Linked DNA regions of Homo sapiens: regions 2 and 3 are each linked to region 1. Evidence: fine-mapped expression QTL. A gene starts in region 1. Each other region holds a variant in brackets. All regions are shown on one strand. Distances are between the middles of the regions. Region 1 holds the start of THOC7 (THO complex subunit 7). Region 2 overlaps ATXN7 (ataxin 7). Region 3 has its middle 35 kb from the start of SNTN.

Evidence for each region. PIP is the estimated chance that this variant, and not a neighbour inherited with it, causes the effect.
Region 2: its variant is fine-mapped to the expression of THOC7 in whole blood (INTERVAL, PIP above 0.99).
Region 3: its variant is fine-mapped to the expression of THOC7 in lung (TOPMed, PIP above 0.99).

Annotation. Positions count from the first base shown.
Region 1 is chr3:63,859,161-63,869,329 of GRCh38, forward strand. THOC7 (THO complex subunit 7) reads right to left here and starts at 4,645. Exons shown (of 8, transcript NM_025075.4): 1 at 4,612-4,645. The coding sequence starts at 4,630. ATXN7 (ataxin 7) reads left to right here and starts at 4,707. Exons shown (of 13, transcript NM_001377405.1): 1 at 4,707-4,998. It overlaps THOC7-AS1 (THOC7 antisense RNA 1), which reads left to right and starts at 1,485. Exons shown (of 2, transcript NR_104326.1): 1 at 1,485-1,836; 2 at 2,339-2,659. RefSeq lists silencers at 4,364-4,583, 4,914-5,153, 5,164-5,383.
Region 2 is chr3:63,940,684-63,950,852 of GRCh38, forward strand. All of the region lies in intron 4 of ATXN7 (ataxin 7), which reads left to right. Among named protein-coding and RNA genes, the nearest start is that of PSMD6-AS2, 58 kb to the right of the region's middle. The variant C/CA (reference allele first, on the strand shown) is at 5,959.
Region 3 is chr3:63,682,964-63,693,132 of GRCh38, forward strand. No RefSeq gene overlaps it. Among named protein-coding and RNA genes, the nearest start is that of SNTN, 35 kb to the left of the region's middle. RefSeq lists an enhancer at 4,189-6,147. The variant G/A (reference allele first, on the strand shown) is at 4,865.

The sequences.
Region 1 (10,169 bases):
CTCTCATCTGGAATATTTTGCATTGGACTCCCTGTTTCCATTCTTGCCTTCCTAGAATCCATTTTTTATGCAACTCAGAATGATCTAAAAGATGAATTGGATCACTAACTCTCCTGCTTACAATCCTCCTATCATTTCTAAATGCCCACAAAGGACAATTCAGTCTCCTTTCCAAAGCCTGCAAGGCTCCTCCTGAGCTCCCTTTTACCTCCTTTTGCATCGTACTCCTCTTGGCCCACCTGGATGCAGTCCTGTCCCTAGATCCAGCCCAGTGGCTTTCCTTATTTCCTCTAAAGGGTGCAGAGCTTGTTTTCACCTCGGGCCTTTGCACTAGTTGTTGTCTCTATCTGGAATACTTTCCTGGGCTCTTCATGTGGTTGAACCTGTCAGGTATCACTGCCCTCCCCCATTACTCTCTGTCCTCATTCCATCAAGTTCATTCTCAGAACTTAATTACATTCCTTTTCAGAAATTATCTTATTTACTTATTTGATTGCACACTATGGCTTCTTTCCCCAAAGCAGGGGCCAGGGCCCTCCTCTGTCTAGTTCACTGCAAAGTAGCCAGGACCTCGCATTGTGCCTAGAAGGTATGCAATAAATACTTGTTGACGGATCACACATACCACTCATTTCAGCTTGATTTTTTCAAAAGCTCAGCTGACAAAAACCATGTTTATAGAGGATTGTCTGAAGAAGTTGTAGTTTGTCTTTCCTCTATGGTCTAGATATTCAATCAAAAAACCCTGATTTGAATCAAGCCAGATCAGCAGAGCTACCCACTACCCACCTAAACCACATTGTCCATTGATTTTATTTATTTATTTTTAGACAGGGTCTAGCACTGTTGACAGGCTGGAGTGCAGTGGTGCAATCATGGCTCGTTGCAACCTCAAACTCCTGGGCTCAAGTGATCCTCCTGCCTCAGCCTCCTGAGTAGCTGGGACTACCTACAGGTGTGTTCCACTCCACCTGGCTAATTTAAGAAAATTTTTAGTAGAGATGAGTAGCTGAGACTACAGGTGCACACCACCACACACGCCTGGCTAATTTGAAAAATTCTGTAGTATAGATCATGTCTTGCTGTGTTGCTTAGGATGGTCGCAAACTCCTGGGCTCACGTGATCCTCCTGCCTTAGCATCCCAAAGTGCTAAGATTGATTACAGGTGTGAGCTACCACACCCAGCCTCTACTGGCTTTAGAATGTCTTTCTAAATTGTGATTTAGCCTTCTTTTACCTAGCAAGGGATGTGCTACAAAACAGCTCTATGATCTTCAGTGCTGAAAAGAGGTTAAGGATATGACACTGGCTTTCATTTATAAAGACCTCAATGATAAACTTTTCCTCTAGTTCAAATCAGAAAAAAAAAGTGCTTTTCCTGGGCATCTAAGATTGCCTTCTCTCATGAACACTAGATCACAGAGCAGACGAGGTCCTGCCTCTCAGAATGGCCTACTGGAGAAACAGGTCACTTACAGCTTGGTTAATTAATGTACTAGACTTTATCCTCCTGCATTTTGAGGATCACCCCACTTCTGACTTCCCTTTATTTTTCCTAATCTCAATGTTCTTTTTGTCTTGTTTTCTAATCCGTTTAATTTTTATATTTTCTCATTACAGTGAACTGCCTTAAATGTTTTCTAGCATAAGGCATATAAATAACGTATTAAGGGTGACAGCAGCAATATGCATAAAATAATATGGCTAGTAGGCAGAAGGTCAACTACTTCTAGGAAAGAAAAGAGGGGATTTTTGAGGTGGGTCTTGAGGAATAAGTGGAGTGTCACCTGATAGAAAAGGCAGGAAAAGGCAACCTGTGCAGATTAAGAGAGAAGGCAAAGTCCACATCAAAGGAAAGTGGAAGACAGATTAGTAAAACAACTCTGACATTAATATTTACTGAATATTAATTATTATGTGTTGGACTCAATGCAAAGCCCTTTACAACTTTTTGTGTTTAATCCTCAAAACAATCCGCTGATGTGGATTTTATTATTATCTCCGTTCAGAGACTGAAGCTGAGACAGTCTGTAAGTGGCAGGGTAGAGATTCCTGTGGCTTTTAAGGATGTGGGGGGGCACTTGACTGCAGTCATTACTTTAGAACTCATCTTCTGTCCCTATCTCCCATCTGACAAAGCCTGTTGCTCCTTTGGACATCTCAATCTCAATAAATAGAAAAGTAGCACTAACAGGCACACAGTGAAGTCAAAAACCTGGGATCATCCTAAATCCCTTCTCCCACCATCCATTCAATACCTGAAGTCCTGACATTCTACCTCACAAATTTCCCTATTTCCCTCCCACCTGTCCTCTTTGCATTCCCTCTTGGTCACAGTCCTCATTGTCTCTCACCAGGGCCACTGCAGAAGTAGCAGACACAGGACGCATAATAGTGAAGAGCAGGAACTCGGCAGGTGGTCTCCCTGCCTTTGACCCTCTATAACTACTATCTGTGCGACCTTAGGCAAGCTAACCTGTGTCTGTTTCATCTGTAAAATGGGGATAACAATTAGAATAATACCTAACAGCACTACGTAAACGTTAGTAAGTGGCGAGGAAACTTAGCTCCTCATTTTCTCTTCCTCTAATCATTCTGCACATAACAGAGACAGTGTGTATGTGTGTGTGTGTTTTTTTTTTTTTTAATGAGACACGGTCTCACTCTGTCACCCAGACTGGAGTGCACTGGCGCGATCTTGGCTCACTGCAGCCTCAACCTCCCAGGCTCAAGTGATCCTTTCTCCTCAGACTCCCAAGTCCTGGGACTACAGGTGTGTGCCACTGTGCCAGACCAATTTTTTTGTATTTGTAGACATGGGGTCTCACTATGTTTTCCAGGCTGGTCTTGAACTTCTGAGCTCAAGAGGTCCGCCTGCCTTGGCCTCCCAAAGTGTTGGGATTACAGGCGTGAGCCACTGTGCCCGGCATGTGTGTGTGTTTTAATGCCAATCTGATTAACACCACACCAGTGTTAAAACTTTTAATGGATTCCTATTGCCCTTAGAGATCTCTGGCTCATAACTTTCTAAATTCTAGCAATACTTGTCAGCTTTGAGTTCTTCCAACATCTTGGGGTCTTTATACAAGTGGCTACCAACCCAGAACACCAGTCCAATATCTATTTATTCTTCAAAAATGGGATTAACTTCGAGGAGGCTTTCTCATTTCCATTGATTGGATAAATAATCTTTGTTACATGTTCCTACAGTTCCCAACCTTGTACTTCCTTGTGGTAATATTTGTCACTCTTAAAACTCATTAGTCAATGTTTCTTTCCCTTCAGACCAAAATTTTGGAGAGGGAAAAGTTCTTGCTTGTTAGTTCTGGGTTGTAATCCCAAAGCCTAGTCCAGGAAGGATAAATATCCACTAAATAAATGAAACTGGAATGAAGCAAAGCTGAAATTCCACATGAAGTTCCTGGGTCTTTAGTAGCCTCCCACCTCCACTACTCTTTATCAGTCTGGAAATTTGGGCCTATCACTGTTCTTCCCATGGCCAGGCCCTTTAATGTGGAGACCCTGGTGGTCTTCAACTCTTAAGAAGTGGCCTCTCCACAGGCATTTACAGTTACCGGTCACCATCTCCTGAAAAACACCCAAGAGCCCTAGATATCCCCTTCCCAGATATCAAAGGACCTCCTTCCTCCCTAACCAGATACCTTGTAGGTTCTCCCTCCAGTTGCCAATCATGCCCCTTCCCCCAAAGTGTCACCTTATTTCCGCTCTCAGTCCATAGACCATCTCCCTTAGACTGTCCACAAACCCAGCCTTTGCCCCTCTAAATTCATCCCAGCTGACAACCACCCTTCCTAACACACACACATACATCTTTTATCGTCCTGATCTACCCTAGACGGTCTCATCACTATACTGGCTCCTCCTTACCCCCGTAAATCTCCCAGGTACACTTCCTGATCACCCTCCGGATACCTCATCCCTATCTATTCCTTTTATAAATAATTCCCTGCTCCTCCTTCTCACCCACAATCCACTCGCAGTTCAAGGCCTCATTGCCATCGACTCCACTGTCTGTGAGTGCTTCCCAATATGCCCCAGGACCCCTCCTGGTGTCACGCTCTGTATCCTGACACCCCTTGTAGACGAGTCCCGAAATTCCCGCCCCGTCCCTGGAGCTCCCACTCCCTCCCAGACCTCCACAAACCTTCCAGGCCCCCAGCCCTAAGCCCGGCACCACTGTCCACCCTTCGCGGCTCCTGGGTCCTCACCGCGCCCCTAGACAAACCCGGACTCCCTCTGGTCCCACCCGCCCTTGCACCGCTTCTAGCCGTCTCGGCCACCCACGTGTGTTCCCAGCCCACCGACCACGCTCCCGGCACACCCTATAGCCCCGCGCTGCCTCCGGGAGAGCGGACGGGGAAAGCCGAGGGTCTCCGAGGGGCGCTCGGGCTCTGGCGAGAGGAGGAAGGACTCAGGGAAGCAGCCGGGGAGGCCCGGGGCTCCGGGGAGAGGTCGGGAAGGCCGAAGCGCTCTGGCGAAGAGGCCGGGGAGGCCGAGGGGTTCCCGGAAGCGGGCCGGGAGGCCAGGGGTCTCAGGGGAGGCCCAGCGGGCCGTGCAGCGGGCGCGTGTGGCGGCGAGCGGGGCCTCACCGTCAGTCACGGCTCCCATGGCGTGCGCGGCGGCGGCGGCGGCGGCGGCGGCGCAAGCTGAGGCGGCGGTTGGCGGCGGCGGAGGTCAAACTCCCACAATGCAGCCGGGTAAACAGCCATGGAGGAGGAGGCGGCGGCGCCCGCGGCCGCCTGCTCCGACGCCTGAGCCGCGCCGCGCCGCGCCGCCGCCGCCGCCGCCGCCGCCGCGGGACCCGCGCTCCCCGCGCTCCCGGTACTCCCCGGGGGCGGCCGCGGCCGGCGCGAGTTGGGGCGAGGCTTGGCGGCCGGCGGCGGCCCCGGCTGCAGCCCGGGCTCCCGCCGCCCCCCTTGCAGCCCCCGCCCGGCCCACGCCCAGAGGCCGCCCCGGAGGCCGCAGCCAGCCGCCAGGTGAGCTCGCCCGGACGCCGCCAGGGCTGCGGGGGTGCGGCGGGAGCTGCGGGCCGCCCGCAGTCGGGGTCCCGGCTTCTTCCCCGGGAAGGTGACTGCGGCCCCGCCGCCCCATCCAGGGTGACGCTGCTAGGGGTGGGCTCGTTTCCCTGGGGGGTGGGGAGGGTGACGGGGACGCCCGGATCCGGCTGAGCCCAGGAGAGGCGGGACTAGGGGTACCGAGGGGGGCGCGTCGCTGGGGGTCCCCGCGAAGTTGGCGCCCACGCGCGCTGGGGCGGGTCTCGAACGCCGGCACTTGCGCGGGGCGCGGCCGGCAATCAAAAAAGGCCCCGGGTTCCAGGTCGCGCGGTTCCGGCCCCTGCGGCCGCCCCCTTCCTTCCTGGGCTCGGCGGGTGCGGGAAAAAGGGTGAAAGAGAAACTTGGCGACCTCCCGGAGGAGTTCGCGAAGCGACCAGGAGCGTGTTGCCATCGTCCTCACCCGGCACCCAATTCCACCACAGAGTCGGGATTTCGTCGGTGATCGTGATGGGGTGCTTTTATTTTTCTCTTTGATTTTCAAAAAATGTCTATGTGACTGTCCCTATCTTAAGGGGAAGTTGAAAGTGGGGGCGGGGGTGCTCAATGAGAAACGTTGCCTTGTGTGTAGTTGTTTGGAGCACACTGCAAATTATATTGGCATCTCTTTCCAAAAGTCACTTTGATTCAACTTCGATAGCTTTCTCGTAAATGGCACGTTTAGGTGGTGAGAGGTGGATGAGGAAACAGGCACCAGTGCAGCTGATTTGACCTCCAGTGGGATAGATACGATTAGCACCAGGATCGTGTCTCATTTTGAACCCAGGTTTGTTATTTTATTCAGCCATACCGTTGTTTTCCAATTTTCCTGTCCCCCAAGTAGATCTTGCATCTTCATATCCGGGATGAAGAAGTTGTGTAGGATAAACTTGGTTGTTTCACTTTCCTTACTAAATTTAGGTACATTCTCCCTGTTTTCCCCCAGTTCTTTCAAAGAGGAGAAGTTGCAGATGCAAATGTATTAAAGTGAAGTGTGTTTAACCTCTAGCAAGAAATATGTACAATTTTAGTCATATTATGTGAGACCAGTGACTTCAATAATACCATTACAGTGCTCTCAAGAATTAGTGCTCAAGAACTTGACTTTTGTCACAAAGACAAAAATTACTTTACATGAAGATTCTGAGATGTGACTTGCTCTCCCCTAAGGTATGAAGTTTCCGACTTTGAAAAAATACTGACCTAAACGCTGGCTGTAGGTGGGCATCATCAGACCCTGTTCATTTCCTTGGTTTTAGGAGACAGGGCACTCTAAGAGAAGAATTGTTTTAAATCTTAAGTACTACAGATTGTAAACTGAAATTGTCAATTGATTGGGGTTCACAATACCAAGTTGCATTTTGGTGGGGATAGTTATTGTTTAGAAAGTAATTGTCGGCCGGGCGCGGTGGCTCACGCCTGTAATCCCAGCACTTTGGGAGGCCGAGGCGGGAGGATCACGAGGTCAAGAGATCGAGACCATCCCGGCTAAAACGGTGAAACCCCGTCTCTACTAAAAAAAAATACAAAAAATTAGCCGGGCGTAGTGGCGGGCGCCTGTAGTCCCAGCTACTTGGGAGGCTGAGGCAGGAGAATGGCGTGAACCCGGGAGGCGGAGCTTGCAGTGAGCCCAGATCCCGCCACTGCACTCCAGCCTGGGCGACAGAGCGAGACTCCATCTCAAAAAAAAAAAAAAAAAAAAAAAAAAAAAAAGAAAGTAATTGTCATGTGGTGAAAAGTTTTTTTTAAGTGTTTCTTAATCTTATCATAATACTGATTTTGAAACAGTGTCAGTGATTTAAAATAATCTGTAATATTTTCATGGGAAAGTATCACTGCCCCCTGTAACTTAAATTTTCGTGAGATACTCTCTGAGTTATTCATAAATGGAGTGCTGTTCAAACATTTCTATAAGTTAATTTGATAACCTATAATTTTGTTGGATGATGCTAGAAATTTTCTGGAGTAATAAGACCAAGAGGAATTTGAAAGACTTTAAAGTTTGAGCTGTACCTGAAAATAAACATTCCTGAAAGTTATTTTATTTTTTTTTGAGACAGGACCTTCCTCTGTTGCCTAGGCTGGAGTGCAGTGGCACGATCATCAGGGCTCACTGCAGCCTGGAACTCCTGGGCTCAAGTGATCCTCCCATCTCAGCCTACCAACTAGTTGGGACTACCGGCATGTTCCATGATGCCTGGCTAAGTTTTTTATTTTTATTTTTGTAGAGACATGATCTCACTATGTTGCCCAGGCTGGTCTCAAACTGCTGGGCTCAAGCGATCCTCCCGCCTCAGCCTCCCAAAGTGCTGGGATTATGGGTTTGAGCCACTGTGTCCAGCCTGAAAGTTCTTGACTCAAGTGGTGGGAAACACATAATTTGAGCCTTTATGAACTCTAAAATCTATTTTGTCAGCTACATGATTTTACTTGCAATTGCATTGACACAGATCTATTCATTGAACATTTAAGAATTGTCTTTTCATCATATCGTATATCTCATATATATGAGAGAACATCTTTTAGTAAACTTTACAAGTGGTCTTCTTTTTACATATTAACATGTTGATGAATGTTAAAGTAGCAAAGACTCAAGCCCTTACCATACTAATGTTTCTTCTTTTCAAGACAGATCTTTATGGGCAGAAACACAGAAATGGAAGTAGCAGATTTTAAGAAAACTGATTCAGACTTTGAACTTGTATGACCTTATATTTATTGATTTATTTGAGTCATAAGATTTCTGGGTTTTTTTTTTTTTGAGAATATGAAAGACTAGTTAAGAAAATTTGTGTGTTTATTTGATATTTGCTTTCTGAAAATATAAAAAATTATGAGAGAGCTAGCTATATATGGTCTTTATTCTGGGTCTGTGAAATAATGTAAGGAATTTTGTACTATGCTTTTAGAGCAAGAGTTATCCTGGGGGTCTGTGACCCTCCAAGGGTTGGTTTCAAGGGATTCCTGAACTCCCTGTAGTTGTGACCAGAACTTTTTGTGTATGTGTATTTTTCTGGAAGAGGGTCTGTAGTTGTTTTAGAAAAGAGATCCAGGACTTAAAAAAATTAGAGACACATCTTTTTATTGAATAAAATGGAAGTTAGAATTCTTTTCTTTTCTTTCTTCTTTTTTCCTTTTTCTTTTGAAACAGGGTCTCACTTTGTTGCCCAGTCTGGAATGCAATTGCATGAAACTGGCTCACTGCATCCTTGACCTCCTGGGCTCAAGTGATCCTCCTGCCACAGCCTCCCAGAGTGCTGGGATTACAGTCATGAGCCATCACAGAATGACCATTCTAAAGAGAAAAAAACATTTTTGAAAAGTAGATCTGTGTGCTCGTTACTTGCCTTTTAAAGTTATCTTCAGGCTGGGCACAGTGGCTTATGCCTGTAATCCCAGCACTTTGAGAGGCCAAGGCGGGTGGATCATTTGAGGTAGGCCGAGGCGGGTGGATCATTTGAGGTCAGAAATTCAAGAGCAGCCTGGCCAACATGGTGAAACCCCATCTCTACCAAAAATACAAAAAAAATTATCTAGGCGTGGTGGTGTGGCCTGTAATCCCAGCTACTCAGGAGGCTGAGGCAGGAGAATCACTTGAACCCAGGAGGCTGAGGTTGCAGTGAGCCGAGATCACTACACTCTAGCCTGGGCAACAGAGTAAGACACTGAAATAAATAAATAAATAACAAACAAATAAATAAATAAAGTTGTCTTCAGACTTAGAGGTGTAAAAGCACTTCCATTTTATTCCCACAACAAAGCATTGCCTATCAGTTGATAAGCCAAGCTGGTCTGACGTGCTAGTCCTGCATGTACTGTGGCTGTGTTTTTAAAAAATTATATCTAAAAATTCAGACCAGATCGTTTGATGGTAGATAAGCAAAGATTTGATCTTGACACCAGCCGTTGGAGTAAATGGGTCTTTCAGCTCCACTCTCTTCTCTCCAGAAAATTTGAAATTTGACTCAAAGGGAATCATTGTAAGAAAATGTGTTTGTGCCTTGGCAGGACAGTAGAACATGATGGGAAAAACACAGTTTGAGTCAAAATAGACTTAAAATTCAAATTTGGTTTCCTTTATTCACTGTAGCTACTTACCCTGCTTGACTCTTCAGTTACTCATCTGGATATGGCTAACTAGTAGAGTTGTTGGGAGGCTAGCTAGAAGTTTCCCGTATAAAAGTCTTAGCTCCTCTTTGGCCCGCAAGAAGGACTTACAAGCCAGGTTTGGGGAACCATTAATAAACATCTGAGGAAACATGTATATTCATGGTATAGGATAATAAGTACATTATTTCCAAATTGGTGTGATGAAGATATTAACACTTAAAACATTGTTTTTTAAGAAAAAGATTTTCAAAAATGAGTTAGGATTGAGTGGTCCCCAAATATAGATATTTAGAGGAAAGTGGAAAATGATGGTTTATTTGGCAGAGGGGAGGACATGGATGCTGCTGGGCAGGAAGAAATGATAGCCACCCACCAGCATTATATTTCTCTCTGTGGGCAAGATTCCATTTAACATTTTCTCTTCACTTATAATCTGAATTAAAAAACTAAAATACTGCACATGTACTTTATAGTCCATCACCCCTAAAAGTGCTTCAGCACTCCTTTCGTTTTGAGACCTTCACAGGTAACCCAGGGACTTCATGGGTGGAAGTTACACTTATAACTTTAGTTGTCTAATTCTGCTGTCTTTAAAATGCCTTCACAGTTGGGTACCTGTGTTGATTTTTGTCAATAGGAAAGGGTCTGGCAGGACTGAATCATATTTTACTTTAAATGCTGAAGTAAGAGAGGGCATTATGAGTCAAAAGAAAGTGTGAGATACGTAAATAAAATACTGTATAATGCTTATGGCCATAAAAATAAACTTGCTTCTACTATTTCTATAGTCTTAACCTTTCCTGTCATTTATTCGTGGTGATCATTTATGCTTTCTGCCCTTGGGTTGGGAAATGGTTATGAACACAGCCTTTAGGCTTTGAATATGGCCTTGATTCTCATTTCCTGAGCTCTCTGGTTGTGTTCAACTTGGTCCAGTCTCCTTCTTTGAGTCTAGAGGAGATGACCATTAAATGGGATAATAAATGCAAAAAAGTTTTGCTTACTCC
Region 2 (10,169 bases), 82 kb after region 1:
TTAAAGTTGATACTATCATTTTCAAATGTAGAAACTGTATGCCTAGATGTGCCTAGAGGTTAAGTACATTGCTGGAGATTACAAAACCAAGCTAAGTGGTAGACTCTTAGAGCCCGTATCCTACTCTAGACTACATGCTTGTCCAAATGGTAGGGATGCAGACAAGATTTATAAGGTTTTTGGTAGGCACTTCCAGATTTGGGACACATGGCATTGAAAGCTTGTTTTCTGACTTGAGAGGTCAGGATTTGCTGACAGTATTTTGAGGAGTAGCTTAAGGAACCCGTGAGACAAACCTGTCGTGTGTACTGCCATGTTGGTCACTGTTGTAGCCCCACCTGCCATTCCTAACGCAGGTTCCTCAGGATTTTGATATTTGCCTACTCTATTCTATCCCCAGCATTTTATCTCAATTTCAGTACAAGCAATGACAATGTAAACACTGTAACTCTTACCTGTTAGGGGTCACTATTGATAATATTGGCCATTTGTAATTAGTGAGTAATTAATATTAGGAATATTTTCATCTTTCTAGCTCCTTGGTCGTCTGGTGCAGGGGTCCCCAGTCTCTGGGCAGTGGACCAGCACCAGTCTGTCAGTGGCCTGTTAGCAGTCAGGCTATGGGGTGGGGGGTTTGGGAGAGAGAGAGGAATGAGCATTACCGCCTGAACTCTGCCTCTTGTCAGATCAGCGGTGGCATTAGATTCTCACAGCAGTGTGAACCCTATTGTGAACTGCACGTGCAAGGTATCTAGGTTGTGTGCTCCTAGAATCTAACTAATGTCTGATTATATGCGGTGGAACAGTTTCATCCTGAAACCATTCTCTCCTTGCCCCAGTCCCATGGAAAAATTGTCTTCCACGAAACTGTTCCCTGGTGCCAGAAAGGTTGGGGACTGCTGCTGTGGTTTTTGTTGCTTGCTTTTTACTTGAAACATCTCACTTTATTTTCTTTAAATCTAGTATTTATTGACTGCTTTGGTTTACGCAGGGCCAGACCTCATACATTTAGTAGCTTGCTGATTGGTCTCTCGTTGGTTCCATCATTTGACATCTTTTGGTCAAAGGGAAATCCAGTTATCTTTAATTATTGGAGTAGACAATATGAATCTGGGAGTTGTGCTTATGGAAGGTGGAAATAAAATTCTACCTTTTTCCTTTCCTACTTGAGACTAAAGCTCACTTAACAGCAATTTAAAACTTTAAAAATATCATTGATGCTACTTTTGATTACCGACTATTGAGAGTCACCTGTTGAAATAAATTTGGAACTGACTGTAGTAAAACCTGTTACGTGGAGACCAGCCTTCCTCTTCTCTCTGGTTTCTTAGAAATATATCCAACAATGGAGCCGAGAGTCCTAGCATCTCAGGAAACCTATGAGCAGCGGTGAGAGCAGACAGTACAGAGGTACCCGCAGGAGTCTGCTGGCAGATAGGAACAGCTTGATTGACTTTTCATGAAATGAGACAGAAGAGCAGGGATTTCCTGGGAGAGGTGGAGAGTAATTCAAGAAGGGCACTGAGTAGTGGAGGAGCTCATCTAATAAGATGGTAAAGAGCATGTACTTTGGAGTAGCCTACCTTCACATCCCAGCTCCTCTGCTTACTGACTTTGTGACATAAGGCACACAGCCTCTCTGTGCTGCCTCACTTGCTTTCTATAAAGTAGGTTATTGACCCTGAGAAGTCAAATGAGTTAATACTTAGCATTGTACGTGGAACACAGGAGGCACTCCATAATTGTAAACTGTTTTATTTTTGTTATACGTATCAACACTTCGCAGGGTTTTTTTTCTTTTGTGTAGGGTTGTGAATTTTGTTCACCGATATATTTACCCAATACCTTGAATAGTGCCTAGCCAGAGTAGCCATTCATGTATTTATTCAGTGCATAAATGAATGAATGATGTATTTAGAATACCTGCCACAATAACTGACACCCATTAAGTACTTAATACATAGTGTTACAAGAGGTAGTGGCTACAGACCAGTAGAGATTGAAGCAGTGGCTAGTGTATCCCACTGATAGTAAAAATAGAAATGATTGTAATAGTATTACATACATAGCACATGCTCCATGCCAAACACAGTTACAAAAGTTTTATGTGTGGTAATTCTCTTTATCCTCATAACTACCCTTAAGGTTGCTGCTATAATCTCTATTTTACAAGTGAGTATACTGAGCAGAGTAACTTGCCCAAGGGTCATGCTCCTAATGAGTGATAGGATTGGGATTTGAACTCAGTTTTATTCCAGAGGCCATTCTCAAATTTTTTTGTTGAAAACCTGTGTGTCAGGTACTGTGCTATGTACTTGTGGCCCCTGACCTCATGGAGTTTAAATCTTAATGAAGGAGATAGCCACAACACAAATAAGAAATAACTGAGTGACAAGAGAGAATTGTGTGAAGCCACAGGGGCCTGCCTTAAATTGGGTATTCAGGGAAAGTCTTTCCAATGAAATGTGAGCTCAAGCCTAGAGCCAGGCAGGCAAAGCATTCCATACAGAGGGAACAGAACTAGCAAAGGGCCCGAAGTGGGGTTGGCATAATTGTCAAGGATTTCAGAATGCCAAAGCGGAGAGTTCGAAGAGAGCAGTGTGTCTTGAGGTTGCCGATGTTAGGCAGGACCCTCCAGTATTTGTTATTATTCTGACTACATTGTAGAACCACTGAGGAGATTAATTGGGCCTGATGACATTTATGATTTAAAAGTATCACTGTGGTTACTGGGGAGCAGGGGGAGTGTAGAGTGGGCCCTGGTAAGCACGGCCAGCTCAGAGACCAAAGGACGACAGTGGAGAAGATGATAAAAATGGCTTGAATTTCCAAAGTACTTACTGTGTAGGAGGCACTATTTGAAGCATTTACATATATTCGTGTAGTCCTCCTAGTAGTCTGTGAGGTAGGTACTTTGACTTTACCCATTTAGAAATGAGAATATTGAGGTATAGGCTAGTAAGTGGCAGGGCTGGGATTTGAACACAACTTGAGTTCTTCTATTCTGTGCCTAACCCTTCATGTGTTTATATTAGCTGCAGTAAAGAAGGAAGAAACTACAGACTCATCTTTGGATTCCTTCCTCTGCCTCAGCCTCACATCCATGGTCTCCTGAGCTCTTTGCAGGGTACTCTAGACCATGTCTTCAGTCTGGTTTCACTCATTTTCATTGTATAGTCTCTTCCTGTCTCACTCTATTGCATCAGCCTTTGGGAGCTGCCTTCCTTACCTAGGTCAATACACATTCATGGCAGAGTTACCTTCTGGATCTTGTGGTTTCCTTGCTAAAAGTTGTAGGTTGCCCTTGGCTTGCAGTATTGGCCCTCTGCTGCTGGAGCCCCAGCATGCCTCCCCTACCTCTCCCTTGCATGGCCTTCAGGGAGGAGTGTGTGGCCAGCAGTAGGAGCACAAGACCACTTGAGAGTTAAGCTCACATTGTGAAATAGTCAGTTGCTAATTGGTGTATATAGTTGTTCCCCCGTATCTGCGGGGGATACTTTCCAAGATCCCCAGTAGATGCCTGAAACTGAGGGTAGTACTGAATCCTATATATACTGTTTTTTCCTGTACATACATAACTATGTTAAAGCTTAACTTATAAGTCAGACACAGAAGAGATTCACAACAATAATTAATAATAAAATAATAATAATTATAACAGTATGCCAGCATTTTTATTCTTGTGCTTTGGGGCCATTATTAAGTAATAAGTATTACTTGAACACAAGTACTACAATAGCAGGAGTTGATCTGATAACTACTAAGTGACTAATGGACAGGTAGTGTAGACAGTGTAGATATACTGGACAAAGGGATGATACATGTCCTGGGCAGGATGGAGTGGGATGGTGCGAGATTTCATCCTGCTGTTCGGAATGGCTTGCAGTTTAAAACTTAGAAGTTATTTCTGGAATTTTCATTTTAATATTTTCAGACCACAGGTAACTCACACCTCAGAAAGCAAAACCATGAATAAGCGGGGATTACTGTAGACCAGACTTCTGTTAATTAGTAAGAGCCGGGGACCTTGAGACAAACATTTCTAATGTGGATCAATTTTGTGAGTTATGTTTTTTTTTGTTTTTTGTTAGTTTTTGGTTTTTGTTTTTTGTTTGTTTGTTTGTTTGAGACAGAATCTTGCTCTGTCACCCAGGCTGAAGTGCAGTGGCGCAGTCTCAGCTCACTGCAACCTTTGCCTCCCAGGTTCAAGCAATCCTCCTGCCTCAGCTTCCCAGGTAGCTGCAATTACAAGTGTAAACCACCACACCCAACTAATTTTTGTAATTTTAGTAGAGATGGAGTTTCACCATGTTGGCCAGGGTGGTCTCAAACTCCTGACCTTAAGTGATCCACCCACCTCGGCCTCCCGAAGTGCTGGGATTACAGGCATGAGCCACCGCACCCAACCTGTGTTTTTGTTTTCTTGAGCTAACTTTATTGAGTGATTACTATCAGTAGTACTAAGCGCTCTCCATGGATCATTCAGTCTTCACAATAGTATTGTGAAACACAGGTCCTGTTAACTGTATTTTAGACACAGGGCAACTGAGATTCAGAGAGGTTAAATAATTTAACCATGCTCACATAGCTAGTAAGAGGAAGAGTAGACGTTTGAATACAAGTAGTCTCACTGCAGAACTGCTTTTAGCTACTGTGCTGGATTCACTAGCACAAAAGAATTTGTCAACATGCAGATTTGAGAATCAGACATTGAAATACAGAAGTTTTACTAGAAACTGCCTCTAGGTATAAAATGTTTTCAGGGAAGACTATTGAACTTGAACTTCTCTGTCACTGAATGGCATACCCAATTCCAGCAGATGATGACCATGTGTCACTAAATGACATAAAAGCACAATTATAACCTTCTGACTTACGGTGGCATCACAAGGACTTAATCTTTCAATTATTATTCATCAAGTAATATTTAGCACATATTCATTGCTGCTTTCTGTCAGCCAGGTTAGGCACCATTAGGCACTGCCACCAGAGCAGTCAACAAGATAGATATGGAATGTAGTCTAGTGGGAGGAAGTTAAGGCTTGCACAGCTGGATGAATGTTTACAAATGGGAGATAGTGCTTGGCTAGGAGCCCTACCTAGCCAAGTCTCTGGGGAAGCCACATTGAAGCTAAGACCGAATGAAGTAGAGCAACAAGCCAGGTACAGGTCTGGGGGAACTGAGTTCCAGGCAAAAAGAGCAGCAAGTACCACACAGGATTCTGTGACGAGAGTGTGGTGTAGTTCAGGAACAAAACCAAGGCCAGAGTAACCAGATGCAGAGAGGCAGGGCCAAGCTGTTCAAGGCTGGTGGGCTAGGTCAGGGATCATTGCTTTTATCCTAAGAGCAACTGAAAGCTACAGAAAAGTTCCAAATGCCAGTCATTTACTTCATAAACACACAGTGATAGGGAACTTCTCAGGTATTGTGCTAGGCAAGGCAAAGAGTCTGCTGTCCAGACAGGACTACTGAGGTTTCCATTTGTAAATTTTTATTCATAAATCATAAATCAGTGAGTGAAGGGCTGAAATGGCAGGCATAAAGGGTATGAGTAGGAGCCTAGCAGAGAGGGCATTGGGGCTAGTTCTTGTCGAACGGTGGGAATTGTAGAAAGAGCAGAGAGAAGAGCTTTCTATGCTGTAGGAGCTGTTCTGTCCAAAAGAAGGAATTGTGGGCCAGGCGCGGTGGCTCACGCCTATAATCCCAGCACTTTGGGAGGCTGAGGCAGGAGGATCACAAGGTCAGGAGATTGAGACCATCCTGGCTAAGACAGTGAAACCCGTTCTCTACTAAAAATACAAAAAGAAAATTAGCCGGGCATGGTAGTGGGCGCCTGTAGTCCCAGCTACTCCAGAGGCTGAGGCAGGAGAATGGCGTGAACCCGGGAGGCGGAGCTTGCAGTGAGGCGAGATTGTGCCACTGCACTCCAGCCTGGGCGACAGAGCGAGACTCTGTCT[C/CA]AAAAAAAAAAAAAAAAAGGAATTTTAGGAGAACAAGACAGGTTCTGAGAATGACAGGAGACTTGAGGCAGAATCACATTGACTGAGGCTGGAGAGATGGGAGGGACCAGAATGCTAGGTAGGCGCCTTGTTGCAGAGCAGTAGGTCCAGAGTCCAACCCCCACTTTGAAGCCAGCAGGGGTCTTCAAGTAGAGAAGTGGTATTATTGCTTTACAAGTTTGTGGGCTCAGGCAGCTGGGAGGAGGAGGCTACGTAAGAGGAACAAACTGTGGCCTTGTTAGGAGACCTGTTCAGGTGAGTAGAGGCCCCATACCTTGACCTTGGGCACTGGCAGTGGGAGTGGCACTGGCATAGAGGAGGTGATTCTGGGAGAATACTGGAAATTGCCAGGGGTGTTATGAGTCTAGCAGACCTGGGTTTAAACCTTGGGTGTGCTATATACTAGTTTGTGAGATTTCAATCCTGTGTGCCTTAGTTTCCTGACAAATAACAATCATGACTTTTATCTCATAGACTGTGGGCAAACATTGAGTGAGCACTTCCTAGGGCCAGGTGCATTTCTAAGACTGGCATGTAGTAGCTCTCTTAGTCTTTCTGTCCTTTGAAGTACCCAGTGAAGTAGGTACTATGGTCATCACGGTTCAATATGTGAAGAAAATGCTGGCCAGGCGCAGTAGCTCACACTTGTAATCTCAGCACTTTGGGAGGCCAAGGTGGGAGGATCACTTGACCCAGGAGTTTGAGACCATTCTGGGCAACATAGTGAGACCCCTGTCTCTACAAAAAATAAAACAAAATTAGCTGGGCGTGGTGGTGCACACCTGTGATTACTCCTAGCTACTCAGGAGGCTGAGGTGGAAGGATCGTTTGAGCCTGGGAGATTGAGGCTGCAGTGAGCTGTGATTGTGCCACTGCACTCCAGCCTGGGCGACAGAAACCTTGTGTCTGGAAAAAAAAGTGATAATTTGAAGAGATTGTATAACTTGCCCAAGGTCACGTTTCTTTTGATTGAGGGAACCAGGATTCAGAGTGATACTGACCCACACTCTTAGCCACTCTGCTTAAAATGCCAGTGATAGTAACTAACTGGGGAGGGGGAAGGAACAGCCCTTTGAAGTGGTGACAGCTGAGCTGAGACCTGATGTGTGAGAATACACCAGGCATCTTGTGAAGTGCAAGCATAGAGTCTGGCTGGGGAAAAGGTTTCTGGGTTTGAGGAGAGAAGGGAGGTCAGTGTGCCTGGAGCAGAGTGAGCCAAGGAGAGAGAAGTGGGGAACGAGGGAACAGAGGATGAGAGGGAAGTGCAGGTATATCTGGCAGGACCTTGGGAGCCAGGGTAAGGGCTGGAGTTCTATTCCAAGAGGAGTAGAAAGCCACTGGAGAATTTTAAACAGGGGAGTGATGTGATCTGGTGGGGAATTTTAAAGAATCACTCTGGCAGCCTTGTGGAAAGGTTTGTAGACTACTTAGGGGACTTCTTCCAGAGTTCATTGAAAGGGTGCTGGTGGCAGGCCCAATAGTGGTGGCCATGGCAGTGGAGAGAAGTGGATGAAGATTTTAGGATAGAACTTAACTGGGTGTGCTAGTGGCCTGAATGTGTTGAGGGACAAGAGAGTTGGAGGTGACACCTGGGCTTTTAGTTTGAGCTGTTGGGGGATGAATAGTATCATTTACCCAAAATGGGGAAGGTTGTTGGGTGAGGAGCAGAGAAGGGTCAAGAGTGAAGTTTTGGACATGCTTGTTCTGTTTGAAATGTATATAAGACATCTAGATGGTAATGTCTAGTAGGCAGTCTGGTACGTGAAACTAGACAGAGCTTGGGAGCAGTCGGGGCTGGAGATAGAAACTTGTGAGTGGCATGTAGAAGTTTGGGATGCGTGGGAAAAGGGAGACACGCAGGGTACTGGGCAGGTTAAATGCTTTGCAGTGCCATTCAGGTTTTCTTGTTACTGAACAAAGTCCTCAAAATGGAGATAGCAACACCAAAGTAAATACATTCACCACAGTTTGGGGTATGGTTTCTAGCAGAGGGACTTCATTCTGCATGTGACTGAAGTTTCCATATACATGTGCTCAAGTGTCCTTGTGCTTAAACCTAATCCTCCCTAGTATGCTGGCCTGGGGTCTCCAAAGTACATGATGGCCTAGATGTGGGTGCTGGCCCACTCACTAATTGGAACATAGGGGTGACCTAAATCCTGAGAAAGATTTAGGGCTTACACAACAATAAAATCCATTCTTTCAAATTCGTTTAGAATCCATTAATTCAAGTACAATTTTTAAACTTTATGCTCAAGTACATAATTAATGGCCTAAGTTGTATATTACAAGTATATTTTGTAAACTTTTTAATTGAATAATGAATTCATTTTTATTAATTTTATATTTTTATTTTCTGTTGTAAATCAAGCTTTTCACAGCATTTGAGCAAGATCCCTATTTTAATTTGCAGACGGGTTGATTGTGAATTTATGCTTTAAAATATTTAGGAACATACATACTGTCTCTCACACACACATTATTTCATTTCTTTCTGTTGCCACAACATTCCACACTCTGTTCCTGTTGCTAAGGCCCCTGGAATGTCCCAGAGCAGAAAAAGAATATAGAATTCCTTTTTTTTTTTTTTTTCCTGAAGAAGCATTTTATTTAAATTATTTTGTATCCTCTAGTTTACTTCCAAATATGGATATCTGAAAGTGAAGAATTTAGAAAGCTAAAATTAAAGTTGCTTTACGTTTTCATAAAATGAACTCAATTTCTTTTTCTTTTTGTGAGACAGAGTCTCACTCTTTCACCCAGGCTGGAGTGCAGTGGCGCAATCTTGGCTCATGGCAACCTCCACCTCCCAGGTTCAAGTGATTCTCCTGCCTCAGCCTCCTGAGTAGCTGTGGTTACAGGCACCTGCCACCACACCCAGCTAATTTTTGTATTTTTAGTAGAGACAGGGTTTACTATGTTGGCCATGCTGGTCTCGAACTCCTGACCTCGGGTAATCCGCCTTCCTCGGCCTCCCAAAGTGCTGGAATTACAGGCATGAGCCACCGCGCCTGGCCCAGGGAGCTCAGTTTCATAGGGTAGAATGAACTGGGTTTAAGTATACCATGTTTCTTCCCACAGAGGGGGTGTGTGTGTGCATGCTTTTTAGAGAGATTCAGTGTGCTCATGAGAAATTAAGAACCGAGTTTTCCGGTCACACAAACCAGAGTCCTGGTTATGCCGCTTTCTTGCTGAGTGATATTAAATAAGTTTGTTTCTCCATAAGTAAAATGGGGATTATTATGTAGGGTTATTATTAGAAATAAATGGGAAAAACCATGTAAGAACTGCTTGGCATAGGACCTGGCACATAGTAGTCTCTCAGTAAATGTCAGCTGGTTATCATTATAGTCATCATCAGTTGCAATTGATCTTAAGTTATTGAGGAAATAGAAATTTTTACAGAAGTATAGATTCTTGGTTCCTTACAGGATAACCCCTATCTTTTTAGTTTTACTAGTCCTAAGTCTCAGAAAAGGATCAAAGGAACCAGGGCAAAAAAGAATAATTTTGTACATGATAAACATCATGTGACAAATTGAATCCTTATTATTTGAAAGGATCAGTTTAGGTTTTTATTTCTCTTAATTGCTTTATTTTTAAAGGGGTAGAGGGTTAGTCCACAGAAGAATCTGGTATCTGGCAAAGTGATCTATTTTAAGCAACAGTGCTTTACATTCAGAACTGAGGGAAATCACAGAGACCACCAGCAGCACATTGCAGAGACCTAAAACTAAACTAACACTGTTTATTTAATACTGTTTTAACTGCTATCTAATAATAAAACTAATTGAGTTGATTTCATTAATGAAATTGTTCATTTGATATCTATCTCACACTCTTCAGTTGTAAATTATGAATGTTATACCAGTTCTGTAATTTAGATGTATCAGAGGCATTTAGCACAGAAGCATATGGAACTTACGGTAAATGACTTTAAATTTTATTTTTCAGAATGAAATGTCATGTCAAGAAACTGTAATCTTGGAAAGTGACTTATTACATGTATATCATTGCATAGATATAACCTTTCCCCTTCTCCCACATGTACTATATTTAACTCAATGTGGGCAGGCTTTCAGGGAAAATAGCATATTGTTTGGCTCTTATTTTTTATTAAATAAGCGTAGTCACAGAAGTCTGTAGTCTACTGGAAGCTTCTTATCTAATCA
Region 3 (10,169 bases), 180 kb before region 1:
AACTATATACACAGTATAAGTAACTGCATTAAGTACAAAATATGTATAGCCACTGATATGACATCCATTGTACATCTACATGGAAACATGACACTGATGAAGTTGAAGGAAGAGTCTGAAATCAGAAATCTAGCATTAGACTGCTTAGGTGGGTCTGAATCCCACACCTACCTCTAACTCTCTCTGGATGGCCTTGTGCAAATTACTTAACCTTGCTGTGCTGGTTTCTCATTTAGAAAATGTGGATAATATTACTTATCTTGTGAAATGGCTGAAAAGCTTAAGTAAGTCAATCCATGCAAAACAGCATAGTGCTTAACACTAAAAAACACTGCACCTATAAATATGCAAAAATATTGATAGTTCTAATCACTGAATGGTGTAATTATATGTATTTTAATTTTTTTCATTTAAATGTTCAAATTGAAATTTTCCACATTGTTCACAATGGTTTGTTTTGTTTGTTTGGTTTTTATACTCAGGGGAAAAGATGGTTAATTTTTTCAAACTCTGGGTCTTAAGTGTGTCAGTAATGCCAAAATATTCTAAAATCAAAAACTAAGCCCCATACAAACTCCCTTTGGGGATGCGCCTTTGCGGAGAGAACCCCCATGCCCCCCTCATAGAAAACAAGCTCCTCATTTCCATAAGCTGATAACACAGGAAGCATTAGAGCAAGGATTCAGCAAAAAATAGAATCCTGAAATAATAAATTGGAAGTATTGGGCATTGTGAAAACAAGAACCAATAAATGTAAATAACTCCAAGGTAAATGATTTCTTCAAGTCCCTGAGGTTCTGTAAGAGTTGGAAATATGTTATATTGCATTATAATTTATAATTGGATTTTGAAGTCTGTTCAGTAACAGGTCTAGTAACAGGGCTGGGAATTAATCCTCAATTCATACCTCATTATATTGCTGCAAATATCGCCAAACTTGACTCCACATGAGACAGACCTTCATCTATATAAACAAGGGGGCCAGCCAGGCCCATAGTACTCTAATACAGGTACTTTCTTATATATGGGGAACTGTTGGGATGGAAAGCTGAATTATTCAAAATAATGCAGTTCCCTTGCTAAACTTCACGGAGCTGTAGACGAAGCTAATGAAGGAAAGATTTGTCTGTGTTTCTTCAGAGATGATTTGCGAAAAAATCAGCTGCAAATAACTAGAGAAGCAATCTAGAGAAACGCTTAGTATGTCTCCTACAAGCAAGAGTCTGTCCTGGCCACGAAATTGCTACTGTTCAGAAATTCAATATGTGGAAAAAAACGCAAGGAGAATAGTTCTGGGAACCTGTTCTTCTGGAAAATGATGATTAAAACATTTTCTTCCAGCCACCGACCTCCCTCTGGGGACTAACAAGGCTGAGAAAGATAAAGAGTAGCTATGTGGCTTATTGCCCTCTCTGAACTTCATTTGTCCCACCTGTTGAGTAAGAATACCCACCCGGCAGCATTTCTGTGAGGATGTGAGGATGTGAGGACTCCAGATAACTCACACAGTGTGGTATTCTTTTCTTTTCTTTTCTTTTTTTGACAGATTCTTGCTCTGTCGCCCAGGCTGGAGTGCAGTCGCGTGATCTTGGCTCACTGCAAGTTCCACCTCCTGGGTTCATGACATTCTCCTGCCTCACCCTCCCTAGTAGCTGGGACTACAGGCGTCCGCCACCATGCCCAGTTAATATTTTTGCTATTTTTTTTTTTAGTAGAGATGTGGTTTCACTGTGTTAGCCAGGATGGTCTCGATCTGCTGACCTTGTGATCCGACCACCTCAGCCTCCCAAAGTGCTGGGATTACAGGCGTGAGGCACCGCGCCCGGCCCACAAAGTGTGGTTTTCTTAAAACCTGACACATAATAGACGCACAACAGCTGTTAGCATTATTACTGGGGTGCTGATTTCAAGAACCTTGGAAGAGCCTGGGTCTCCAGTTTCCCCAACTAATTTGCTAACGTTTAAATACCTTCAGTTGAAGAATATGCTTTCATTTTACTGTTATAGATAAGGCTTTACTATAAACATCTGGGTGTGATAGCAATTTCCTTAAATTCGTATTAAACTACAAATGATCCATGTCAGATTATAACAGGTTCTGAGGACTACTATAAGGGAGAAAGAAAACATTTGCCTATTCACTTATTAAGCATTTATTTAGCACCAACTATATGCCAGGTTTGCACCAGTTTGGGGGCAGGGACAAAGACAAGCCTATGGACTTTGAAAATGTTCCTTTCTTGGCCTGTAATAAACTGCCAGGCTCATGGTTCTCATCCTTCATGCCTTGGTTTAGATCACTTCTTAGGTTCCGTACATGCTCAGATTCTGTGCTTCTATAGTTTTACAACAACAGAATCCTCTAGACAACTTGTAGTGACCAGGCTTAGCCACACACTCAGATGTGTAAGAAATCACTATTTCTTTGTTTTCATGAAGCTCAGTTTAAATCAGTTTCCAAGGCTTATTCCCACCACGGTGGGCAGAAATTTCATCTTAGTCACCATTGAGCACCTATCTCTCTGAGTCATTTTAGAATCTAGGACTTTCCATCCTTCAGCCCCTATCCTCCATCATGGCCAACTTCCTCTTTGTCACAGCTGACAGTGGCACCTCCCCACTCTAAGAAGCTCTCAGCTTTGGTGGGTGCAGAAACCTTGCTGAGGCAGACAGCTCTGTGTCTTGAGTCCAGTCACTGTTTGATGTCTTGGTGCTCTGAGAGGTACTGCCAGCTACGCAATGTGAAGGTCCTGCCATCTCTCACCTTCCACCTCTGATCTCTCTTGGAGTCCACAGAGCTCCTTCCATCCCAGGCGTCTGCAAACTTTTTCTGTAAAGGACCAGGTAGCAAATATGCTGGGGCATCACAGGCCTCACTATCTCTTTCACAGCTACTCAGCTCTGTTGCTGTAGTGCTAAAGCAGCCATAGACAACTCATAAATGAACGAGCATGCTACATTCCAATGACACTATATTCATGAACCCCAGAAATCTATTTTTGTAAAATGTGCATGTGTCACAAAATAATATTATTTACATTTTTTTTTCTTTTTTGAGATGAAGTCTCGCTCTGTAGCCCAGGCTGGAGTGCAGTGGCCCAATCTCAGTTCACTGCAACCTCTGCCTCCCAGGTTCAAGTGATTCTCCTGCCTCAGCCTCCCGAGTAGCTGTAATTACAGGCGCCTGCCACCATGCCCGGCCAATTTTTGTATTTTTAGTAGAGACAGGGCTTCAGCATATTGGCCAGGCTGGTCTCAAACTCTGGACCTCAAGTGATCCACCCACCTCAGCCTCCCAGAGTGCTGGGATTACAGGCATGAGCCACTATACCCGGCCTCTTCATGTCATTGTTTTAAAACCAATTCTAATGTTCAGACCATTAAAAAAATAGGCAATGGGCCAGATTTGGCACACATCCCAGAGATGGCCAAACTGCTCTATCCTCTTCTCATCTTCAAAAAGCTTAACATAGTTTGTTTCATGAGTGTGGACTTTTTGAAAATAAAGGCCATTTATTCATCATTCATTCATTCGGTTAACAAATCCTTATAAGGTGACTGTCCATCATCCCAGATTGCCTCGGATTAAGGAGTTTCATGGGATGTGGGATTTCTAAGTATTGAAATTGGAAAGTCCTAAGCAAACCAAGAGCATTGATCACCCAACCTATTAAGCGCCAGGTAACAAAGGTTCAGGAGTAAATGAGACAAAGTATTTGTCATTATGAAACTGGTATGGTCTTCGGGAAGGCAAGTGCCTTTGCCCACAACTCCTATCCTTGGTTTAAGATACACACCTCCCCTAACTCATTCCTGGCAAGTGCAGAAGGTCAGGGGAAAGTGCTTGAAGGAAAAAGCCCAAATTATCACCTCAACAGATTGTTCTATTACACAGTAAAGTACTGTGCATAATATTGATTCTAAGCGTCAAAGGCAGAGCAGCAAGAGTAAACATGTAAAAGTTCCCAAAATGCAAGGTGACTGAACCAAAGTCTCACCACACCCACCCTACCCACCCCCGAGGATTGATCCAGGGCTGGAACACTAGGCCCAGGGAGCAGAGTAAGGGCTTTCAGAGTAATCCAAGCACCTTTAGCATCTAGAGGTGAAAAACTCTAGAGATTTCTGTGGTACTAGCAAATGCAAACATCCTAAAATCATTTTATAAATATTGCGAGCAATTTCATTTGTTCAATCCTGTTGGTTCGATTCTGTGATTACATTTATAAATTCAATTTGACTTCATGAGAAAAGTCTAAATTTGAGGCCTGCTAGAAATGTGAGGCCCAGGCAAAAAAGTTCTCCTCTTCTCCTGTGCTCCTTGCCCATGCTCTCCCCTCCAAAAGAGTTTGATATAGTAACACAGCCTCAGCAGGGCCTTTTTTAATCAGGAAAGGCGTACACTTTGGGAGGACAAGATCACATGCCACAGTGGTGAGTGATGTACAGACAGGACCTCAGTCCCTATTTGACTCCTCTGTCGGGCAGCTTTGTGCAGTGCATAACCTGCACCGCTATACAGAGCTACCCTGAGACAGCTGTCCGGACTTCCAGGGAAGAAATCAGACCCTTTTGCTAAAGTTGGAGGAATAATGAATGGGGTGAATCTAATTGCTTCAGACCCCAGGGCAGTAAGTTGCTCCTTCGGAAGTGATTTCTGTCTTTCAATTGCTTGTGTTTTTGACAACTGGCTGTTTCTCACCTATTGTGTCTTCCTGTGGCTCTACTTGCAGAATGTGCCTTCAAACAGTGGGCTGAGCATGGGTTGGGAAAGCCTTTGAAAGCCAGCCAGGCAGAAAATTCAAGACAAAAGGTCTTCAAGCAGATATTATTGACATCCTTTAGTTAAGCAGCTGCTCTGGCT[G/A]TAGGAGGATAATAAAGAGTGTACCCTAAACCCTGCTTCAAAGGGGGACTTTGGCTTGGCTGAGGGGCTGGTTGTAGAAGCCTGTAGAACAAGTGCTTTTATACATCCTTCACCTACCTCGCCAGCTGAGAATTGTTCATCCGGTACTAGTGGGAAAGTCTCCCAAATGCACAGTCTGACAGCACTGCCTAGACAGTTCGTGATCAGGTTGCCATGTCAACAAGAAAATACCCTACTGGGGTTTTGTTTACTCATCACCAAGTTCTCAGTTTGTGTAGCTCTTAGCCATGAAAAAAGCTAAGAAATCTGATCTCTGACTTCCAGATTGCTTCTCTGGGCACTGGAATTATTTTGACCCCAGTGGGGAAGACTAGGAGTCTGCTAAGGCACCCATCGTCTATGGGGAGGGGTGAGAGAGCAAGAAGGGATGGAGCCTTCGGATGAAGCATCTTGAGTGTTTCATTGACAGGGGAAATAATATTTATGGAGTATCTGTCATGTGTCTGGAATTCTGCTACAAACTATGCAAATTTGATTTATCTTATTCTCACAACTATCCTGTAGTATTAATATTAGCCTGTGCATTTTATGGATGAGCAAAGAGAGGCTAAAAGGCCAAACGACAGATCAAGCTTCACTAAATAAGAACATGTGCATAAGATGGATTATTATGCAGCTGTTTAAAATAACATTTTTTTGTTGTTCTTGTATTTTTAGTAGAGACGGGGTTTCACCATGTTGGCCAGGCTGGCCCCAAACTCCTGACCTCAGGTGATCTGCCTGCCTCAGCCTCCCAAAGTGCTGGGATTACAGGCTTGAACCACTGTGCCCAGCCTAAAGTCACATTTTTGAAAGACATTTCATGACATGTTCACCTTGGCATATCGCTAAGAGAAAGAAAACAGAAGGCAAAACTGCACAATATAACATATCCAGGCCAGGCGCAGTGGCTCACAACTGTAATCCCAGCAGTTTGGGAGGTCAAGGTGGGCAGATTACTTGAGCCCAGAAGTTTGAGACCAGCCTGGCCAACACAGCAAAACCCTATCTCTACTATCTCTACTAAAAATACAAAAATAATTAGCCATGCATGGTGGTGCATGCCTGTAATCCCAGCTACTCCAGAGGCTGAGGCGGGATGATCACTTGAACCCAGGAGGTAGAGGTTGGAGTGAGCCAAGATCCAGCCTTGGCGACAGAGCAAGACTCTGTCTAAAATTAATAATAATAATAATAACATATCCATAGAAGATATATAGGATGAATAAATAGCCCTAGACACAAAATTATGGAGAATAATACTATGGAAATAACTGAAGATCACCCAAATGAGAACAAGCAAAGTCTATTTATTCAGAGCCTGCTATACAAGGGAGTCAGCCACCATCACTTGCATTTGACAAAGGATGAAAGGCGGGCAGAGGAATGGGAACACTTTACAGTGAAAAAAAAGGGAAGGCTTCAGGTGTGCCTTTATTGGAGGCTGTTGGCACAAGGAAGCTTGATGGGGCTGACCAGAAGCAGGACATCCTATGTGACTGGTTAGGGGAACATATTTGGCTTTCTCTGGTTTGTCCTAAGTGGGAAACAGAGATGCAAATTGGGAAGCTGACAGTCGTTGACCATGTCCTGACAGTCTGGGACCAATTACTGCAAAGGCTGTGGTTTAGCTTCTTGAACTGGTTGCTGTTAGGTTTTGGGTCAGAGTTCTATTTTTATATCTGATTGCACCATTGTTCATTTGTATATTCAGTCTCTCAATATACAAAATGATAGTAGTAATTATCACTAGGTTTCAGGACTACAATTGATTTTTTTCTTTCTAATTCTTTTCAGATTGTTCTAAATGTTCTATAATAAACAAGTGTTATTACTAACAATAAATAAATAACTGTTTTTATAAGGAAAAAGAAATCGAGTTACAAAAAGGTTCAGTAATTTTTCTGAAGTAACACAGCTAGTAAGTAATTTGCCTGGAATCGAACACAGATCTTTTAGATACTAATGCCTGAGCATTTTCCTGCCCTGTGTCTCCTAGGGATCTTCAGGGCTTGGACTGTTGTTGGGTGAGGGGAGGGGGGAGGGATAGCATTAGGAGATATACCTAATGCTAAATGAAGAGTTAATGGGTGCAGCACACCAGCATGGCACATGTATACATATGTAACTAACCTGCATATTGTGCACATGTACCCTAAAACTTAAAGTATAATAATAACAAAATAAAATAAAATAAAATAAAATAAAAAAGAAATGAAGAATGTAAACTTGTGTTGAAGAACTTATACAAACCAGCAGCTTCACAGACATCACTTTAAAAGTATCTTGTTAAGTCTCATTATTGAATAGCTAATACAGTTTCAAGATATATATTTCCAGGAAATTTGAATTCAAATAAAAGGTGATGATACTTTAGTTTTTAATCACTTATCAAATAATAAATAATTTTTTTAGGGGAGCATTCCCAAATACCTTTGAGGCACTAACAAGCACTCTGGACTACCTTCCCAAAAAGAAATGCACAAAACCAAAAAGTCTTGTTACAATTATGGAGGCCGACAGGCCAAAAACCTCTATTCTGATGGTAGATGTGTGACATCACTCACAAGCCTAGATGTAGGAAGATGTTTGAGATCAGTAGGAACTTTCTGTGTACTTTACAAAAATCATCCTGTTTATAATCAGGTGTGTCTATGTTTGGTGCAGCTCAATTCTGATTTATTTGTGGCTAACAGATGACAGTCAGGGGTGCCTCCTGCATAACTCTCAGAATTGTGTCAGGTGACCAACCAGTATGTGAAAAGTGAAATCCATACATAATACACAAATTTTACTTAGGCAAATAGCTAACACCCCCATTCCCCACTTCTTCCACTGCCAATTATTTTCTTACCACTGACACCCTAAAGGGCCAGTTTGACATCCTCTCTCTCTTATCCCTGTGAAATAATCAAAATAGGGATGAACAAACCATGAGATAATATATTCTCAGATCAACAACCTCTGAAGTTAGGGATCATGGTGAGTTACTTGGAATTCCACTTCTGGCATGGCAGTGTAAGCTCCTAACAAACTGAACACTCACATAACAACTGTAAGCTCTGGGAAAAATACAAAAACAACTACCCAAAGCTGTATAGAATGAGCAAAATAGGAAGATTTTGGAAGGAAGTCAAAACCTAGAAGAATGATGTAGAGTGAGATTCTTATTTTTATGGGTCTATCCTGTGAGCTGACTGTAGTCATTGCTGGCTTAAAGTGGTCAAAACTTCAACAGAAAACTCATTGTTTCTCTGGCCTGAAGAACCAGATGACAGAACTCAGGGCAACCATAGCTTATGGAAAATGAGAGACTAACGTTGTAAAAGAGAAATCCAAAGAAAGGGAGTCCCAGATTCTGTTTTCAAACTCTACCCAAGTCTCTGGGAAACCAATAAGTCATGCACACATGGGGCAAACACAAAGCAGTTTTCAGAGAAAGCTAAAAGAAATGAAGTTCAACTTGAAATTCTCACATCCACAACAGGATAGAGAGAATTTGTGGTTTGAATCTAACCAAGTTAATTGCTTACAAAAACAACAGCAACCCTCTTCAGAAGAATATAGCAGAACCCAGAATTGCCAAAGTACTGTATTCACAATGTTTAGCATACAATCCCAAGTTACACAACACGTAACAAGTCAGGATATAGTGATATATTATCAAGGAAAATGTAATCAACAGAGGTCAACTTTGAGATTGCCTAGATGCTGGAATTATCAGACAAAGACTTAAAACAGCTATTACGACTATGCTAAAGAAAATAAAGGAAAATATATGCAAAATGAATCAAAAAGAAAATGTCAGCAGAAAATAAGAACAATAAAAAAGAACTAAATGAAAATTCTAGAAAGAAAACATATAATATCTGAAAAAAATCACTGGGAATAGGCTTAATATTATCAACAGCATAGACATGAACAAAGAAAGGCTCAGTGAGCTTGAAGATAGATCAATACAAGTTATTCAACCTAAATAAAAGAGAGAAAAATAAACAGAGCCTCAGGGGCAACATCAAACATTAAGCCTGTGACACAACATCAAAAACTCTAACATATGTCACTGGAGTCCCAGTTAGAGAGGGCAGAGAAAATGAGCCACAAAAGTTATTTAAGGGAATATTAACCAAAATGACCTCCCAAATAGTGAATATATAAATTTACAAAGTCAAAAAGCATCAAACTCCAAACAGGATATATACAAGGAAAACCACACCCAGGGACATCCTAGTGAAGATATTGGAAAGGGAAAAAAGAAAAAAGAAAAAAATGTGAATCAGTAAGATTAAAATGACACAATAAATATAGGAAAATTATTTGAATGGCAGAGAAAAACAATATATTACATACAGAGGGACTGAAAGGCAAGACTCAAAAGACTCTCATCAGAAACTGTGGAGGACAAAAATGAGTGGAACGTTTTAAAAGGCTGAAAGAAAAACACTAAAATCCCAGAATTCTGTTTCAGCAAAAATATCCTTCTAGAATGAAGGAAAAAAATATGTCTTCAGATTTAAAAAATAATAACAGAATTCACTGCTAACAGACTTGTACTACAAAAAATGCTAAAGAAGTTCTTCGGGATGGAGAGAAGTAATATCAATATGAAACAGAGCTTCAAGAAATAATGAAGAGCATCAAAAACAATAAATGGCTATTTTCTCTAAATTTCTTTAAATTATAAATGACCGTTTAAAGAAAAAAACAATATACACACATTATGTGGTGGTCATAATGTATGGAGATGTAATCAATATGACAATTACAGCTTACCAGATAGTGGGGGAAAAGTAAAGGGAGCTATATAATTAAAAGATTTCTACATGTTACATAAATTGATATAACATTAACTGTAAATAGATTGTGAAAGTAAAGAATATATATTTTAATCCCTAGATTAATCGCTAAAAAATGCAAAGAGGTATAGCCAGAAAACAAGTAGGTAAATTATAACAGAATTCTAAAAAATATTCAGATATTCAAAAGAAGGCAGAAAAAGGGGAACATAGGAATGAAAAGCAAAGAGGAAACACAGGAAATTAAAATTGTAATTATAGACCTAAAGCTAATCATATAATAAGTACATTAAATGCTAGTGGTCTGTCTACTTTCATGCTTCAAAGGATATTATCAACTGAGTAGAAAGGCAACCCACAGTATAGAAGAAAATATTTGCCAATCACATATCTGATAATGGATTAGTATCCATGATATGTAGAGAACTCCTAAAATTCAACAATAACAAAACAAACAAACAACTTGATTC